Linked DNA regions of Homo sapiens. The protein of the gene in region 2 purifies or fractionates together with the protein of the main gene of each other region. This does not show direct contact. Each region holds a gene or a part of one and is shown on either strand. Other genes may lie near its edges.

Region 1 (7,038 bases), on a different chromosome or scaffold from region 2:
ATGACTTAGAACGGAAATGTTTAGCTCTGTAGAAACTAAAGAAAAACAAGTATCTAAGGAATGTGTTATTTATTTATTTCTATTTTTAGAGATGGGCTCTCACTCTGTTGCCCAGGCTGGTCTCGAACTCCTTGGCACAAGCGATACTCTTGCCTTCGCCTCCCAAAGTACTGGGATTACAGGCATGAGCCACCATGGCCAGCCACAATGTGTTTTCTAAAAAAGGATGGTGAGCAATGCCTCTGGGAAAAGCAATCCCTGACCCTGTATGGTGAACACTGAGATGGGAAGCGGGAATCTTAGGAAGCCCCTCTAATCTGAAGGAGAAACAAAGTGGCCTCAAGAGATCATCTTCCACCCTTACTGTCCATGCCTTTCACTCAACAACAGAACAAAGGGAAATAATATTACAGTATGTAGGACTTAGAGAACAGAAAGTAAACCTTCTTGAAAATTAGGACTATTAAAAATTGAAGTGGGTTATCAAAGAACACTACTAACATTAAATCTTATTCCCTGGGAAGTATTAAAAATAGGATTGATGCCCATTTATTTGGACGCAGTGCTGGCTGAATGAAGGAAAGGCAGTTTTGCTATTGTAAGATTTCTATACCAAGGCAAGATATAACTTACAGGTTAATATGTAGTACATTTTGTATTTATTTATTTTGTTTTTTTAAGACAGAGTCTCACTCTATCACTCAGGGTGAAGTGCAGTGGACTGATCCCAGCTCACTGCAGTCTCGACCTCCTTGGGCTCAGGTGATCCTCCCACCTCAGCCTCCTGAGTAGCTGGGACTACAGGCAGGCACGTGTCACCATGCCTGGCTAATTTTTGTATTTTTTATAGAGACGGGGTTTCGCCATGTTGCTCAGACTGGTCTCAAACCCCTGGGTGCAAGTCATCTGTCTATCTCAGCCACCCAAAGCGTGAGGATTACAGGCATAAGCCACTGTGCCTGGTCTGTACTACCATTTAAATGAAGATTTTACTGTATGACTGTTCTTTTGTGTGTGGGTCATTTTTTTTCTGTACACCAAAAATATTCATAGGTGCCTTTCATAATGTCAGTATCCCTAGTGCTTTTTAAGTAATTCATTTATTTGCTATAAAACACACAGTCTGCACGAAGAAAACATGAGTAATTCCACATGAGTGTCAGAGGTTCACCTAAGAAATTCTGCAATAGTTCCTCAAAGGATTAAGCTGGAGCTTGACAAATATTTTTATTTTTTAATATGAGTAATTTAAAATAAATATTTAATAGTAAAGCAACGAAACACTTTACCTTGTGCTATTTTCCAGAACTGTTCTAGTGAGGAACCCTATCCACATGACATCTTTCTTTCCCAGAATCCATTCTAGAATACCTGGAAGAGATGAACACAATGTCAGGAACCGGAAGAGGTGACACTATGTAACCAGTCAGGACCCGGAAGAGGCTGGACTATATAACCAGTCAGGAACCAGAAGAGGTTAGACTTTGTAACCAGTCGGGAACCGGAAGAGGTTGGACTTTGTAACCAGAAGGCACAGTCCAGCCTTCCTCATAAAAAAGCTCTGAGATTCCCATTTCACTTGAGAATGCTCTACTTACCCAGATAACCACCATTTATACTGAAACGTTCATTCAGTGTAAGACTGAACAGTCCCTGAGAAAAAGACAAAGCAACGAAGTCAGAAACATCAACCATGCGCTTTAAGGCCCTGTCGCTCACTGTACTTCAGAGTGGGATATAAAGGCCTAGCTTGGGTAATGGGGAAGGCAAAAATAAATCAAAACCATAAAAGGCTTTTTAAAAAGTTCAAAGCATTTTTGATTCTAGTATGTGAGATAAGTAGGTGGGGTATCACTGGCAACGCTTTTTGGACAGGAAACTGAAGGGCAGAGAATGAACGCCTGACTTGCCTAAGTGAGCGGAAGACCCAGGACTAGAAATCAGATTGTGACTCCCAGCCCTTGACACCCAGCCACATGCTCTTTATCCCAGAAGAGGCTCAGAAACCTCCGTTTCCTTTCTACTCTTCTCTACCACGAGATCTCATACCTATGAAGTGACAAGAAGTACAAGGGGGTGAAATGGGGCTTCATATTCCCTTTAGGTCCTCATATTCTTAGATTTCAACTTTTACATAACGGTAACAGGACAGAAGGCTACCTGTATAATTATGTAACAACAGACTCCTTACTGGTTTGAATCCTGTTAACATGCCCACATAGCCAGCAAAGCTTGAAGCCTTGAAGACAGTTTTGTTGTTTCTTTGGAAATCCAAATTCACTGTTAAAGGTTTTAGTTGCTCAGTTATGACCCAGGTATCATTATTTATGTTCCACCTATAAAAGACATGTTTCAGTGACATTTCAGAAACACAGTGATAGTAATGATCAACATGATGATGAGGGCCAGGCATTACACTAGGAGCTTTATTTACCGAGTCACCACGATCAATCCTAACAAGACCTTTACAATATGGTATATTTATTCTGTTTTCCAAATGATAAAATTGAGGTTCAGAGAAGTCAGGTAACTCTCTCAATATCACACAGCTTATAAATAGTGAGCCTCAGATTCAAACATAGAATGCTAATTACAATATTCTTATTTTTTCAGAAAGGTCAAGATGGACACATAAAATAGAAGAGCATGTCCCTCTTGTCTCAGCACTCAAGCAATCCATTTATCTTCACTTATGATCACATTTTGGGTGTGACTTGGGACTTACTTATCATCAATATAACACAACCTACTCTTCCTACAGACCAAAACAGTTCTGTGTTCTTTTTTTTTTTTTTTTTTTTGAGATGGAGTCTGGCTCTGTATCCCAAGCTGCAGTGCAGTGGCGCGATCTCGGCTCACTGCAACCTCCGCCTCGCAGGTTCAAAAAAGTCTCTGCCTCAGGCTCCCAAGTAGCCGGGATTACAGATGCCCACCACCATGCCTGGCTAATTTTTATGTTTTTAGTAGAGACGGGGTTTCACCATCTTGGCCAGGCTGGTCTTGAACTCCTGACCTCGTGATCCACCCGTGTCAGCCTCCCAAAAAGCTGGGATTACAGGCGTGAACCACCATGCCTGACCCTTTGTTCTTTACTTACCCAAGAAATACTCCAAAATCCATGTTTCTCCCATGTATTAGATGACCTATTTGAAGGTAGACAGAAGAGACGTGTAATAGCAGTTAAGATTCTAAATCAAAGCTGGACAATTAATTTTGATTAATTAATTTATTTTTGAGACAGAGTCTCGTTCTGTTGGCCAGACTGGAGTGCAGTGGTGCGATCTCAGCTCACTGCGACCTCTGCCTCCCAGGTTCAAGCAATTCTTGTGCCTCAGCCTTCCACGTAGTTGGGATTACAGACATGTGCGACCGCACCTGGCTACTTTTTTTTTTTTTTTGTATTTTTCTTTTAGTAGAGAAGGGGTTTTACCATGTTGGCCAGTCTGGTGTCAAACTCCCAACCTCAGATGATTCGCCCGCCTCGGCCTCGCAAAGTGCTGGCATTACAGGTGTAAGCCACTGTGCCTGGCCTCTAATTTTGATTAATTTTTATTCACAACTGTTTCTTCAAACAATAAGAAGTAAGAAACATCCTAATATCCTAAGCCTTCACCAGATGGGACTGTTGTCACCGTCTATCTGCCAGATAACCCCACAAAATCTGAGAGCACGGGTTTCCAGGTAAGATCAGAATATGGGAAAAGGAATCAATGGTCATGTTTTGGTTCACTATCACATGGTTCTACCAGGACACAGAAATCGGAGCCTCAATTACTGTGATTCATCAAATGTTTCCCTTCAGGCATCATCCCCTAGAGCAGGACATCTCAAGGGTAAGGTACAGGCAGATTTATACCCAGAGTATAGGTCAAAGATCAGGGTGAGTTAGCGAAGTTGTCCTGTGCTTTGTACTCTGGGAACCAGTCAGGAAAAATACGGGAAAGTGAGGCTGGTATCCATTGGGTTGCCTGGCTGGGAAAGGATGGGAGAATGTGTGTTCTGGGCCTCAAGAAAAGGACAGATGTCATGACATACACGAAGATAAGGAAGCACCTCCTGCGAGCACTTCCATCAAAGCATGTAGATGGGTAGAAGTAAACTATGAGGAAGAGAAGAATGTTTCTAGCCCTGCAACATTTCTTCCAGGTTTTTTGCATGTCTGAAATCAACTTTAATAGGCAGTACAGTAGTCTGAAAATAAGGAAAATTTTCAGTACAATCACAAAATTTTACCAAGAAATAAAAAGCTGTATGCAACATACACAGAATTTACATAGCAAGCCCAAATTTCAGAAGTTCTAATTTCATTTAGAAGATTTTTCTTTATGTAGTGCTTCATGCTGCCCACCCTCCCTCAGCGCACAATTACCTTTTTTGTCTTCTGCTACTATTGAAGTACAAATGGTAAATAATTCATAAAAAATATTGAATGAAATAATCTCTCCTATGAGAAAAGAAAATTTTGTGTTAATATACAGAACCATGACAATGGGAGAAAAATTTGTTTTAAGAAAAAGTTTCAGTGTTTTCATTGTGTGAGTGTGTGCTTTGGCCAGTGGGGCTGTGCTGGAACGGCCGGCTGGAGGTGGTTTTCTTCCCCAGCCTGGACTCTCTAGACTCAAGATGAAACAAGTCACCAAGGAGGCAGCCTTCGGGCGAGCTGAACATCTGGGCAGGTTGCAATTGTTCTCCAACATCACATCCAAAATGTTTATCAACATGCTTCATTTTGAATTTTCTTTTGGGAGCGTAAATATGATCATTTAATACATCTGGCTCTTGGCTGTTTGCTGGACATATATTTTGCCCAGATTTTTAAAGTGTGACTAAAATTTCTAAGGTGAAAAAGGAGATTCAAGAACTATTAAAATTAGTACAGAGCTGCCAAGAAACTCCATTCTAGGGTATTTTATTTTTTGAATATTTTCCCAAAATGTATAATACTGCTATTTAGCATTTAATTCAAAAGTAGGCAGCACATTGTATTTCTGTCCCATTTAACATTAACATGTTAAGCTCAACATGTTTTTTTCACCCAAATCCAATGTGTATTTTATTTCCATTAAATTTCTAATTTGGTGAAATTCTAGTTATTTTATTATACATTTATAATAATTTATAATAATTATATAAATTTACACCACTTATACATCATGTTATTCTTCTTAATCCATAAGGTATTTCTATTTGGTATTGAGTTGCTAGAGTTCTTTACATAATAAAGGAATTAGACTTGCTTTCCATAAAGGCAGCAAGTACATATTTCCAGTATGCTATCTTTTAAATGAGTTTTTTAAAGAAGCAGCACACAAAACTAGCCACTTTTGTTGATAAATACTACTGATTTTCACAAATTCTCAATCATCTCATAAAATGAAGGTACTGTTGGCTATTTAAAATAATGACACTACTGCTTTGCTAGCTTAAAGATAAAACTTTTGGGGTCGTGGGGAAAATATTTTTCGTTACATGCCATAAAGCTTAAATTGAAATTTTAAAAATAGCTTCCCAAACCATCAATATCTAAGAATAATTTTAACGAATGGCATGTGAGGTCTTCTCCCTGAAAATAAAAGATACTGCTCAGAGAAATCAGTAACTTAAATAAATATTGAGAAAAACAAAGTTGGAAGAATTATACCACCTAATTTGAAGACTTACTATAAAGCTTTAGTAACTGAGGTGAAATAGTATTGATATAAGGGAAGACAAAAAGACAAATATGTAAATGAAACTTAATTCCCCAAACAAAACAACATATATACAATCACCTGATTGTATATACAGATACACATTGTGTGTGTGTGTGTGTGTGTGTGTGTGTATATATATATGTATTGTATATTTATATCAAAGACACCACTGCAATTTGCTGAGGAAAGGATAGCCTTTTGAATTGATGCTGTTTAACTAACTGGATATACCACATGAGAAAAACCTGAAGCTTGACCCATAAGTCATAGCATATACAAAAATAATTCAAAATAGATGATAGGCCTAAATGTAAAAAGTAAACATTAAACATCTAGAAGAAAATATATAAGCATATATATATGACTTTGGGGTAGGCCAAGATTCCTTAAATGGATACAAAAGGCACTACTCATAAAAGAGAAGACTGAGATATTAGACTTCACTAAAATTAAAAATTTCTGTTCATCAAAAGACAAAAGTAAGAGAATAAAAATGAAGGTCATAGACTGGGAGCAGATATTCAGAATCCATATATCTGACAAAGGGCTTATATTCAAAGTATGTAAAAAATTCCTTCAATCTAATTTTTAAAAGGGCAAAAGACCTTCACAAGCCCTTCTCCAAAAGAAACAAAGAAAACCAAAAAAAAAAAAAAAAAGTCAATAAACTGTTCAATCTCATTAATCATCAAGGAAATGCAAATTGAAACTAAAATGCGATACTGCGACACTCAACAAAAAGGCTCAAATAAAGATTGACACTAACAAAAAAAAAGGAAAAAAAAAGACTGACACTATCGAGAGGAGAATTATCAAGAGGAGAAAACTGAAACTCTCATACTCTGCTGATTGTCAACTGCTGGAATCACTTTGGAAAACTGTTTGGCAGAATCTATAAGGCTAAACACACAATTACTCTATAACACAACAGTTCACTTCCTAGGTATATATCCAGAAAATGAGTACCCAGACACCCCCAAAATGTACTACAATATTTATAATTCCTTTATTGTTAATATCACAAATCTGAAAACCACCCAAATACCCTGTTGATACAATAGCACACCACCCATAATGAAATACAAGAAATCACACAGGACAGTTCATATTGTTCAGTTCTATTTATACAAAGTTCACGAAGAGGCAAAACTAATCTATAGTGACATCAGAATAGTGTTTACTGGAGGAGGCAGTATTTTCTGCAAAGGGGCATGATGGAGCATCGTGGAGTGCTGGGCTCTTCCGTATCTTGATCTGAGTCATGGCTACATGCATGCATGCATTTCTGAAGCTTCACTGAGCTGTATATCTAAGACCTGTGCACCTGTGCTGTATATCTAAGACA
Region 2 (3,736 bases):
AGTTGATGCTGAAACAAGTTAAGACTTTGGGTGACTATTGGGAAGGGATGACTGTACTTTGCAATGTGAGAAGAACATGACATTTGCGGGGGGGTGGTACTGGTACAATGATATCATCAGGGTATTTTGTCCCCTCCAAATCTCATGTTGCAATGTGATCCCCAATGTTAGAGGTGAGCCTGGTGGGAGGGGTTAGGGTATGGGGGCAAATCCCACATGAATGGCTTGGTGCCATCTGTATAGTAATGAGTGAGTTCCAGCTCTATGAGTTCACACAGGATCTGGTTGTTTAAAAGAGCCTGGAATTTCCTCCCCTGTCTGTCTCTTGCTCCCTCTCTCACCATGTGACACGCTGGCGCCGCTTCCCCCTCTGCCATGACTGTAAGCTTCCTGAGGCCCTCACCAAGAGCAGATGCCGGCACCACACCCCCTTGTACAGACTGCAGAGTGGTGAGCCAAATAAACCTCTTTTCTTTATAAATGACCCAGTCTCAGGTATTCTTTTATAGCAACGCAAACAGACTAACACACAGCACCCTGGGAGTTTTATTCTTCATTTGGTGGTGACTCTTCTATTAGGTTTTTGTCCAAATACTTCCATCCCTAAGAATTTACTGAGGCAGTTCTAAATTAAAGAAAATGTGAGTAACAAAAGATGTTACAGAAGAGCCTTGGGCAGCCTGAGAAACGATGGGCCTAGCGGAAGTAGTTGGGACATTCGTGAGTAACCAAATGCCAGGCTTGATTAAAGGCGTCCACGACAGCCGGCTCCAGGGGCCCTTCCTCTGCCGCTGCCAAGTTCTGCTCCAGCTGCTCCAGGCTGGACATGCCCAGGATGACCGCGTCCCCGTGGGCACCCTGCAAGGGAGACGGCCAGACTTCAACCCTCTTCTGCTGCACAGCGACTCTACTCACAGCCGTCCCAGCCACCTCCCTGCTGAGATTTGGGATCTCTTGTATCCCATATGTCCAGAAAGAACTTAAGGTGCCTTGGATAGCTGTACCCATGTGACGCAAAACCTGTATCCCTTCCCCTACTGCCACACGACGCTTCCAGACAGACCTACATTCACAGCCCAGTTCTGCCCCCCAGCAGCTGTGTAAACGCGGCTAAGTTATTAAACCTCTCTGAGATTCAATCCTCTTTTCTATTTTCAACATGGTTATGGGTGTGAAAAATTATGTAGAGCACTTAGCTCCCATTTATTGAGCACCTACTGTATATATGCCAGACACTATTGCAACATCTAAGGCTGGAGTTGGATATAAGTGAGGAAGACATGAGGCACTGAGAGAGGGAAACTCCAGCTCCCACCAAAAGGATGAGACTAGTGGGCTTTACAGTTAAACCTGTGTTAAAATGTCTGCCCCTTTCATAGCTGGGTGAAACTCAGTTTCCTCGTCAATAACACTGGGATAGTCATTTCATAAAGCTGAAGGAATAATGAAATCCCTGCAATGAAGCTCTCATTACAAAGCCTGGCACTCAGATACCATCAAAGACCAATGAGAAGGCCGAGCGCAGGGGCTCACGCCTATAATCCCAGCACTTTCAGAGGCTGAGGAGGGCGAATTGTCTGAGTTCAGGAATTTGAGACCAGCCTGGGCAACATGGTGAAACCCTGTCTCTACTACAAATACAAACAATTAGCTGGGCATGGTGGCGCACGCCTGTAATCCCAGCTACTGGGGAGGCTGAGACAAGAGAGTTGCTTCGGCCCAAGAGGCAGAAGTTGCAGTGACCCGAGATCATGCCACTGCACTCCAGCCTGGGTGACAGAGTGAGACTCTGTCCCCCCAAAAAAAAAACATAGAAAAAGACCAGTGGGAAGAATGTTTGTGAGAGTTGAAAGAAAGAGAAATTTCAGAGGAATCGATAAACAAATGTTTCAGCCTTCATCTAAAGATATTGCTGGTTCCCCTGGAAGGGAAGAAGCTGAGCGCACAGGGTCACTGGTTACCTGCAGCTGTGAGTGGTGGTACATCCACCGGAGGGTGGCCGAGGTCATGCTGGGGGCGCTGGCGCCATACGCGGCCTGCAGGGCCTTCTCCACCAGGGCAATGCCCTCAAAGTGGTGCTCCTTCCAGTAGCTGGGAAGGGGGGACGGTGGCACAGGTGTCAGGGCCACATTGGGAGCCACAACCAAAGAGCCAACCAGGGCCACTGTCCCACCCCACACCCTGCAGCCCTGAGGGGCAGGTGTTCTCTCTAGCCATGGGTCTCCCACTTTGCTGGGCAAGAGAACCACTCAGGATGCTGGGCCCCTCAGCAGAGACCTCAACAAATCTTTATTCCTGAGGACTCATCAGCCTGCTCTTATTTTCCTTAGGGACACAAAGGCCGCTAAGATGGGTCAGGACTCAGCCCCAGGCCTCCTGGACCTCCCTCCAGAGCTCCTTCTTTCCTTCCTAGCAGGTGATTGCTCAGGAAAGAGCAACGACTTCAAGACCCCGAGGTCCAGGGAGTCTCCTTTCCTCCTGGAGGTCCCAAGACAACAAGAAAACCGATGGAGGGTTTGGAAATTCCCGAAGAAATTCAGGGGAGTAGGTGCAGCAGCGAGGAAAGGCCTTACCCCAGGAGCAGCCCAGGACTTCATTCCACATAAAGCTGACCCCACCCCAGCCATCCACACCAAGCACCCACAGCTTACCGATTCCTGTACATCTCTGCCCAGGTATTCCCAAAGAAGCGGCCCACGGGCTGTTTCCCATTCTTGTCCTCATACTTGTACTTGCCGGTCAGCAGGCCCCCTGAGGGAAAGCAGCAATCAGCCCCGGGGCCTAGAGTGCCCCAGAAGCTGCCACATCCCTCAGGGCTCTGGTCTAGGGGAGGGGCAGGGACCCAGGAGGGCTGAAGATGCAGCCTTTACGTCTTTGACCTCAGAGGTCAAAGTTTGTCAAACCCTCCTTGCTTCCCAGGTCCTGGGCTGGGCATCTGTGGGTCGGGAATAGGCTGAGACAGGGCCAGGAATGCTCCACGTACCAGCCAGAGGGTTGAAGGCATAGAACCTCAGTCCAAAGTGCCTGAGGCAGGGGAAGAGCTCCGTTTCCACCTGCCGGGTGATGGCATTGTACATGCCCTGTAAGGAGAGGGGCCCCGGGGGAGAGGGTGGATGTGTCAAAAGAAGAGACTTCAAAATTACCCTTCCAGAACCCTTATTTCAGACCTTAACAATTCTAGGACTTTAACCGTCTGGGCGTATACTTATTCTAACTGGTGCTGGTGAAAGAAGCTTATGCCCATGGAAAATTCATTCATTCTGCCAACTTTCATGAGCACCAACTATGGGCTGGTTGTCAGATTTAGATTCTTAAGCCAAAAGGACAGGGTCCCTTCCCTCAAGGTTTTATAATAAGGTCAAGTATAAACAGTTATAATCAAGTCATGAGGCAATCATAATAGACTAGAAAGTTCTGTGACCAGTGCCTGGCACCAAGCAGGTGTGCAAATATTTGTGCAATGAATCATGAGGAGGTAAACAAGGACCTGAGGTCTCAGGGTCTTCTGGGCCCATCTAGAAAGGCTTCCAGAGGAAGAGACACGTATGTGAGACCTGAACCATTCTCTCACGGAAGGGGCGGTGGTGGGGGAAGGGCTTGTTCCAGGCTGAGTGCAGGGGAAGGTAGGGAAGGAAGGGTCCAAGGTGCACAGATAGGCAGGAAGGAAGCAGATGCCCAGTGGCCAGCCTGAGGAGCTTGAATGGCATCCTGAGGGTACCTGGGAGCCATCTGCAGG
Region 3 (7,038 bases), on a different chromosome or scaffold from region 2:
GATGCTGTTCATTGTTTATCCTCAGTGTTTCTAGACTTTATCATTGGCATCCACTTTTTTTTTCTTTTCTTTCATTTCTTTTTTCTTTATACTGTTGGAAAATTTTCTGTCATCAGATTTGAAAATTAAACTGTATTTTTAACTAGCATCTTAAATATCAAACAGCTTGTGTTATCTTTAAGCTGCTTTTTCTTCCTGAACATTTTGGCAGATTGCTGAAAACTTTCTGTAGAAATTATATTTGCTAATGCAATGCAAATAAGAATTTACATATATCTAGTTTTATTAACATGGTTAGCGATGTTTTATATCATCATATGTAATTGTTGTATTACGGAATTGGACACAACCCAATATTTAGTTAACTTCATCCTATTGAGAACTACCTGCAGCCTTTAATCTTTTACAGTGAAGGTCGTTAACAGGCCTTATTATGAAATAAAAATGACTAGAAAACAGAAACATAACTTTTAAAAAACTCTTTTTGAATAATTGCTTGTTAGGTTTAAAATAGCCACTGGAGTACTAAGAACTTGTATGCTTCTTTCATAACTCTTCTAATTCATATATTTGATTAATGGCACAATTAACAGTTGTATAATATAATTTTTAATTGCTTTTTATTATCTATATATTTTGTGTAGCTGAGGTATACCTTAAGTGATAGCTAAGTGAGATTAATATTATTGTAGAAGCCTTTTCTCTGTAAATTCAATAGAAAAGGAAGAAATCATTTGCAAAGGAAAAAAATTACAATTTAACTGTATCAGAATGAAGATAGACTTTTATAAAAGCATAGATTCAAAACCAACTTAAATTCAAATTTTTCTGTGTTAGAAGGGATTGAAAGTTAATTTATTATTAACATGAAATATTTTGAGCATGCGACAAAAAGGTGAAAAATATAACAAGTACCTAGGAATATGCCTTATTAGACCTCAACATTTTGGGTAAGTTAGTTACTAAAATTGTGTGTGTGTGTCCATACGTGCGCACGCACATGCATGACAGAGTATCACTCTGTTGTCCATGCTGGAGTGCGGTGACATGATCTTGGCTCATTTTAGTCTCAAGTTCCAGGGCTCAGGTGATCCTCCCACCTCAGCCTCCCAAGTAGCTGGGGCTATGGGTGTGTGCCACCATGCCTGGCTGATTTTTTGCCTTTTTTGTAGAGACAAGGTTTTACTATGTTGCCCAGGCTGGTCTTGAACTCCTGGGCTCCAGTGATCCACCCACCTCGGCCTCCCAAGATGCTGGGATTACAGGCGTTAACCACTGTGCCTGGCCAGCTAATTGTTAATAACATTTTTATTTGGTCATTAGTCTTTTTGTATTATGGAGAAGACATTGGGAATAATTGGCTTTTCTGCAGCTTTTTACCCATTTATCTAAAATAACCGATTCATTTATACTTTGCAAAACATAGGCAATAATCAGTGGAGTGTGCATAAAGAACTAGTAAAATGACTGTATGTATTCCTGTGTGAACTAAGTTCTTTACTGAGGTTAGTACCAATCATTTATTTCCTAGGTCTATATTTGAACTATGGGGTCATGGACAATCTCCTGAGGAGCTGTACAGTTCTCTTAAAAACTACCCTGTGGAGAAGATGGTGCGTAGTAAAATGTGGTTTTATATAGGCATGCGTGCAGATTCTGTAGAATTAAAATACTCAAAAAACTGATTTCCTTTTATTTTAGGTTCCATTTCTACATTCGGACTCTACATATAAAATAAAGATTCACACTTTTAATAAGACATTGACACAAGAAGAGAAAATCAAGCGAATAGATGTAAGTAAATTTAGCAAAACAAAAAACCTACATGATGAATGCAGTCTGGCCATTGTTGATATATAGGAATACCTAATGTCTGTGAAGTGTTTATTTTGTACCACATTTTGTGCTAAGTGCTTTTCATGTTTTATTTAATGTTGACTCCAGGCTTACAAGGTAATGTTATTAGATAAGCGCCATTTTTCATTGTAAATTATTATAAGACATCAGCATTTCTTTTGTTTCTTTTAGGCACTTGAATTTCTGCCATTTGAAGGAAAAGTGAATTTAAAGAAACCGCAACATGTATTTTCTGTTTTGGAGGATTATGGTTTAGACCCAAACTGCATCCCTGAGAATCCACATAATATTTATTTTGGTAGATGGGTGAGCAAGTTTTCTTTCTACCTATGTCAGTTTGTTTTTTTGAAAGCTACTTATTAGGCCTTTTGTTGACTCCTATGTAGAACTTTAAAGCAGCTGAAGAGTCAGAACTACTGAATGGATTAAAATTGGTGAAGAGTATGTGATTATGTTTTGTTTTGTGTTTTCCCAGAGATTCTTAAATGAAGTGCAAGAGGCTTGTTAGATATAGGGAGGAGTTGGTATACCTGGAAATGTTGAAACAAGACTTACCAGAACATCTGGACTGTTTTTTTTTTTTTTGTTTGTTTCTTTTTTTTTATAAAGCAGAGAAAACACAGAGTGCTGTGGTAGTTGAGGAATCTCATTTGTGGAGATTCCCAATCTGGGCCTTCCATTCCAAAAGAAATGGAATTACTGTAAAGCAGTTCTGCCGACTTCTCTGAGGCTTTAAATGGGTGATTGGAAGCTGTGAGTGGAAGTTGTGACTTATGTTAGAGATTATTGTTATGTAGGAGAACAAAGAAATGGGCATACCTTAACACCTACCTCTGGAGTAATTGCATTCAAATGCAGTTCATACTTGTTTTGAAAAGAAAAAGTAAATGGAATGACATTAAGCAATAAAAGGCTTTGTTCATAACTACCTCAATTACATTATTTTAAATAAATAAGTTTAGAGCAGTAATAAGTGGAAAGAAGTTCTTATCAGCAAAATACAATGGTCTTATTGTGAGTGATTATCTTAAGTCTATTCTGTATGGCTATACTAACATAAGAAATATCTCTGATTTAGATTGCAGATGGACAGAGAGAGCTTATTGAGTCATACAGTGTCAAAAAGAGACACTTTATTGGAAATACAAGTATGGATGCTGGTTTGTCATTCATTATGGCTAACCATGGAAAAGTGAAAGAAAATGATATTGTCTTTGATCCATTTGTTGGAACAGGTATTTTTATTTAACTTTTAAGCTAGTGTAGAGATGTTGCTTATTTATATTAATGAAGGTCATGGTAATATTTTTGCTAAAAGAGTAAATGGATAATCTTTTAATTGTGTTTGGATAGTGGCCAACAGACAACCACATACTTGTGTAATAGCTAGTATTTAACACTTATGCCACTTCAAAGATGATGCTGATAGAATTGTATGGGTTTTATTCCAGATAAACCACTAGGAGGGAGCATCCATCTAATTTTTTTGTAGCAGAAAAACTTGCAATACCATACATTGTAGAAATGTTGTAAAGCTGTATAGTTTATTTAAATAGGAAAACTCTTGGTGAAAGAAAGACTTGGATGACAAGATCAAAAAAATGTATTCATCCAGTTTAAATGTACTCATACAGTTTAAATTCATAACTGTATATGTGGATGGAGAAAATAGTTAATATATCCTATCTTTGAGTTGGTTTATGGAGGTTTATAAGTAAGTGTGAAATAAGAAAAGTGTCAAAGTATCAATGGGCTAGATAGCCTGGTCACTGTGGCAGTGACCTTGGTTTTTTGTGCATATGATTGGGATAATTTTTTATGGAAGTCCTAAAACTCCATCTGACTCTGTGCAGACTTTTTCCTACTTCCACTCAATTTTGCTGGATCTTGCCCATACCCAGCAAATACTTGTATTTAAATTTGTTTGACCAAGCTCATTGTGGCTCATTTTGTGGTTGGAGCCTGTCCCTGTAGCCATCTTTCCCCTTGGGCAGTGATGATGCAGAGCTAACGTTTATTGAATAGTAAATGTATCAGGTACTATGCTATGCATTCTGATGCTACTATCTAGTTTAATTCTTACAACAACTAACATGGAGATACTTTAAAAATTTGCTTGAGGAAATTATGGCAGAGAGAAAGGTGCAGTGACTTGGCCAAGGTTATACAGTATATTGGTTTCATAGGATTCAAACTCAAGCAGTCCAACTCCAGAGCTCATGCCCTTAACTTTGAGCTGCCTCTCTCTGCATTGGGATCTGCCAACCAGCTATTACACCATGTACTAACTTAAGGAATATGACCACATATGCTTAGGAAGAAGTAGTATCAAGGTCAATAAATTTCTAATTGATGGAATAACTTTCTCTGTTTATTGTTGAGTTAATTCACTGGTGAGTCTTTCTTCTCTGCCAGTTTCTCCATATCACCTACCCTCAGCATACTCTATATTCTTTTCTTCCCCACTCTCATTATCCTAAGTAACTCACCCCAAATTTTAAACTTTTTATTGGAAATAATATCAAACTTTCAGAAAAGCTACAAGAATAAAAGTAGGACAAAGAACATGCATGTATCCTTAACTTAGCTGTTGTTAACATTTGGCCTCATTTGTTTTATCATTTGTTCTATTTGTTTCTATTTACATAATCTTTTCTTTCCTGCATCATTTGAAAGTTGTATCCATCACATCCCTTTACCCTTCAAGTAATTATTTCTCAAGAATGAGGATATATTCTTCTACATAACCACAGTACTGTTTTCAGTGTTAATAGATGTATTAATACAGTACTTTGATATTCATATTTCAGTCTTGCCAGTTTACCCAGTAATATTAATATTTTTGACAGCATCCTTTTCCCTTTCCTGGCTAGGATCAGGTATTATATTTTGTTGTTAATATTTCTTTGATGTCTTTGATTTGGAACACAGCCAAAGTCTTTTTTTCTTTTATGAAATTTGCACTTTTCAAGATGCTATTTCTCTTCCCTTTATTTTTTATCTAATTTTTTCCTCATTTTGGGTTGTTTGATGTCTCCTCAAGATTAGGATTAGGTTATACATTCCCAGCTGGACCACTACATCAGTGACTTTTGTGGCCTTCTCAGGGGTGTGTACATGATGGCCTTCTGCCCTGCATTGGTATTGGTAATTTTTGATCATCTGGTCTAGGTTGTGTTTGATTTTTTTCTGTTCATAATCATAAACAGTACAATTACTGGTGGTTTTATTTTATTTTATTTTTTTTCTTGCTATTAAGCAATCTGTGGAGAGACACATTAAGGCCATGTAGTATTCTATTCCTTATCCAGTCTCCTCTCACCACTCAGGTCGTCAGGTTTAGTAGCCATTGATAATTCTTTCCTGAACCAGTTTTTACTTTGATGGTTTCAAAGGGATGATTTTCCAACTCCAGTGCTCCCTCCACAGTTACAAGTCGACATTCATTATTCTACTGTAAGCAAAAGCCCTTTCCTCTCTTCCATGTATTTGTTTTTCTATTTGTTATTAATATGAACTAATGGGTTCTCCTTTTTAACCCCGATGGTCTATAATTCATTATATTTCTTAATTTTCTTAATTACTTTTGTTCCTCAAATTGTGATTTGCCCAGTGAGAGCTCTTTCACATTGAATCTGTCTTTGTGACATGTTCCTATCCTTTTTTCTTTGGAGTACTTCCTTACTTTCTCTTCTATTTGTTCAAGCTCTGGTATCAGTCATTTTTCCAAGGAATTTTTGTTTCTTTTAGCAGGGAAATGAAATCTGGATTATAGATCCTTTCAGTGGACAAACTAGAAAATATATATGCATATATACACAATATGCATGTAAGTGCATGTGCAAATATACATGTATTTATTCTTATATACTGTGCGTATGCACATACACATGCATATACGTATTTTAGACACTGTGAATTTGCACATATACTATAAATTGCAGTCAATCCTTACAGATTTCCTTTTGACTACCCTATTCTATGTTTATGTGTACCTTCTTCCACAGTGAGAACCCTGATTCCTAGCTACATCAACACATTTACTCTTTTCCTCATTCCTATATCTGAAATGGTTTCACAGTTGTTTTGCTTATGCCACTTAAAAATATCCTGTGAATAAGAGTTCAGGATGTGTTTTCAGTTCTTCACCCTAAGGGGCAGTAAAGTCAAATACTGTGCCTGCTTTTTCCCTTTTCATTTAAAATTCATTTGGGTTCATTTGTTCCAGTTTGCCCTCTGTTTTAGGTTTTTATCTCCTATCCCCCACTCCTTATTGATTTACTTTTATTTTCAAATATGTATAAGATGAACTTGCTTCCAAAAGTCAGAACTACACAAGAAGTGGTACTCAAAGAGATGTCACTTTACCTTTATAACGCTTCCAGCCTGTTCTCCCACCTATCCTAGGTGACTAACTTCATTGTTTTCTAGTTGATTCTTCCTGTTTCTTTTTGTAATGATAATACATTTTCTGATTCATAATGGAATATATACATTTTCTTATTTTCGCTACTTTCTTACACAAAAGGTATCATACTGTGTGTGTTGGTTTTAACTTTGCTTTTTTCACTTAATGGTATTTCCTGGAAATCACTTCCTGTCAGTTCATGGAGCTTATCTTTATTCTGTTTTAGTTTTGCTTCATGAGTGTATGTACCGTAATTTATTCAAACAATCTCCTATAGTTGGACATCGGTAGTTTTCAGTATTTTACAGTTACAAATAATGCTTGAAATGACTAACCTTATGAATATATACCTTTGTAATGTTGGAGATGTAGCTCTAGGGCAAGCTTATCCAACCCGCAGCCCATGGACCACATGTGGCCCAGATGGCTTTGAATGTGGCCTGATACAAACTTGTAAAGTTTCTTAAAACGTTATGAGAATTTTTGCAATTTTTTTTAGCTCACCAGCTATCATTAGTGTTAGTGTATTTTATGTACAGCCCAAGACAATTCTTCTTCGAATGTGGCCCAGGAAAGCCAAAAGATTGGACCCCTCTGTCCTAGGGTAAATTCTTACAAGTAGGATTTCTGGGTTGAAGAGTGTATGCATATGCAGTTTCATTAGATACTGCCAAATTTGTCTCCATTATACTATTTTGGATTCCTACCAACAGTTGTAGGAGAGTCCCTGTTTTTCCACAGTCTCACCAGCAGAGTATATTTCAGGCTTTTGA

What was found. Proteins that work in one complex are often made in the same cells at the same time.
Region 1: the proteins of AKR7A3 (region 2) and ASAH1 purify together in Homo sapiens (co-immunoprecipitation; 2 studies listed by BioGRID and IntAct, with this or other methods). This does not show direct contact.
Region 3: the proteins of AKR7A3 (region 2) and TRMT11 purify together in Homo sapiens (affinity purification with mass spectrometry; 2 studies listed by BioGRID and IntAct, with this or other methods). This does not show direct contact.

What each region holds. Positions count from the first base shown.
Region 1 is NC_000008.11:18,060,088-18,067,125, forward strand, and holds part of ASAH1 (acid ceramidase isoform a preproprotein), read right to left. Parts: intron 4,445-7,038; coding exon 4,370-4,444; intron 3,144-4,369; coding exon 3,098-3,143; intron 2,337-3,097; coding exon 2,192-2,336; intron 1,654-2,191; coding exon 1,599-1,653; intron 1,372-1,598; coding exon 1,290-1,371; intron 1-1,289. UniProt on the Homo sapiens protein: Lysosomal ceramidase that hydrolyzes sphingolipid ceramides into sphingosine and free fatty acids at acidic pH.
Region 2 is NC_000001.11:19,282,035-19,285,770, forward strand, and holds the end of AKR7A3 (aldo-keto reductase family 7 member A3), read right to left. Parts: intron 3,081-3,736; coding exon 2,984-3,080; intron 2,752-2,983; coding exon 2,652-2,751; intron 2,092-2,651; coding exon 1,962-2,091; intron 859-1,961; coding exon 697-858; 3' UTR 539-696; downstream 1-538. UniProt on the Homo sapiens protein: Catalyzes the NADPH-dependent reduction of various carbonyl-containing compounds, including aldehydes, ketones, and toxic products from cellular metabolism or environmental exposure.
Region 3 is NC_000006.12:125,996,522-126,003,559, forward strand, and holds part of TRMT11 (tRNA (guanine(10)-N(2))-methyltransferase TRMT11), read left to right. Parts: intron 1-1,531; coding exon 1,532-1,613; intron 1,614-1,701; coding exon 1,702-1,794; intron 1,795-2,028; coding exon 2,029-2,163; intron 2,164-2,935; coding exon 2,936-3,092; intron 3,093-7,038. UniProt on the Homo sapiens protein: Catalytic subunit of the TRMT11-TRM112 methyltransferase complex, that specifically mediates the S-adenosyl-L-methionine-dependent N(2)-methylation of guanosine nucleotide at position 10 (m2G10) in tRNAs.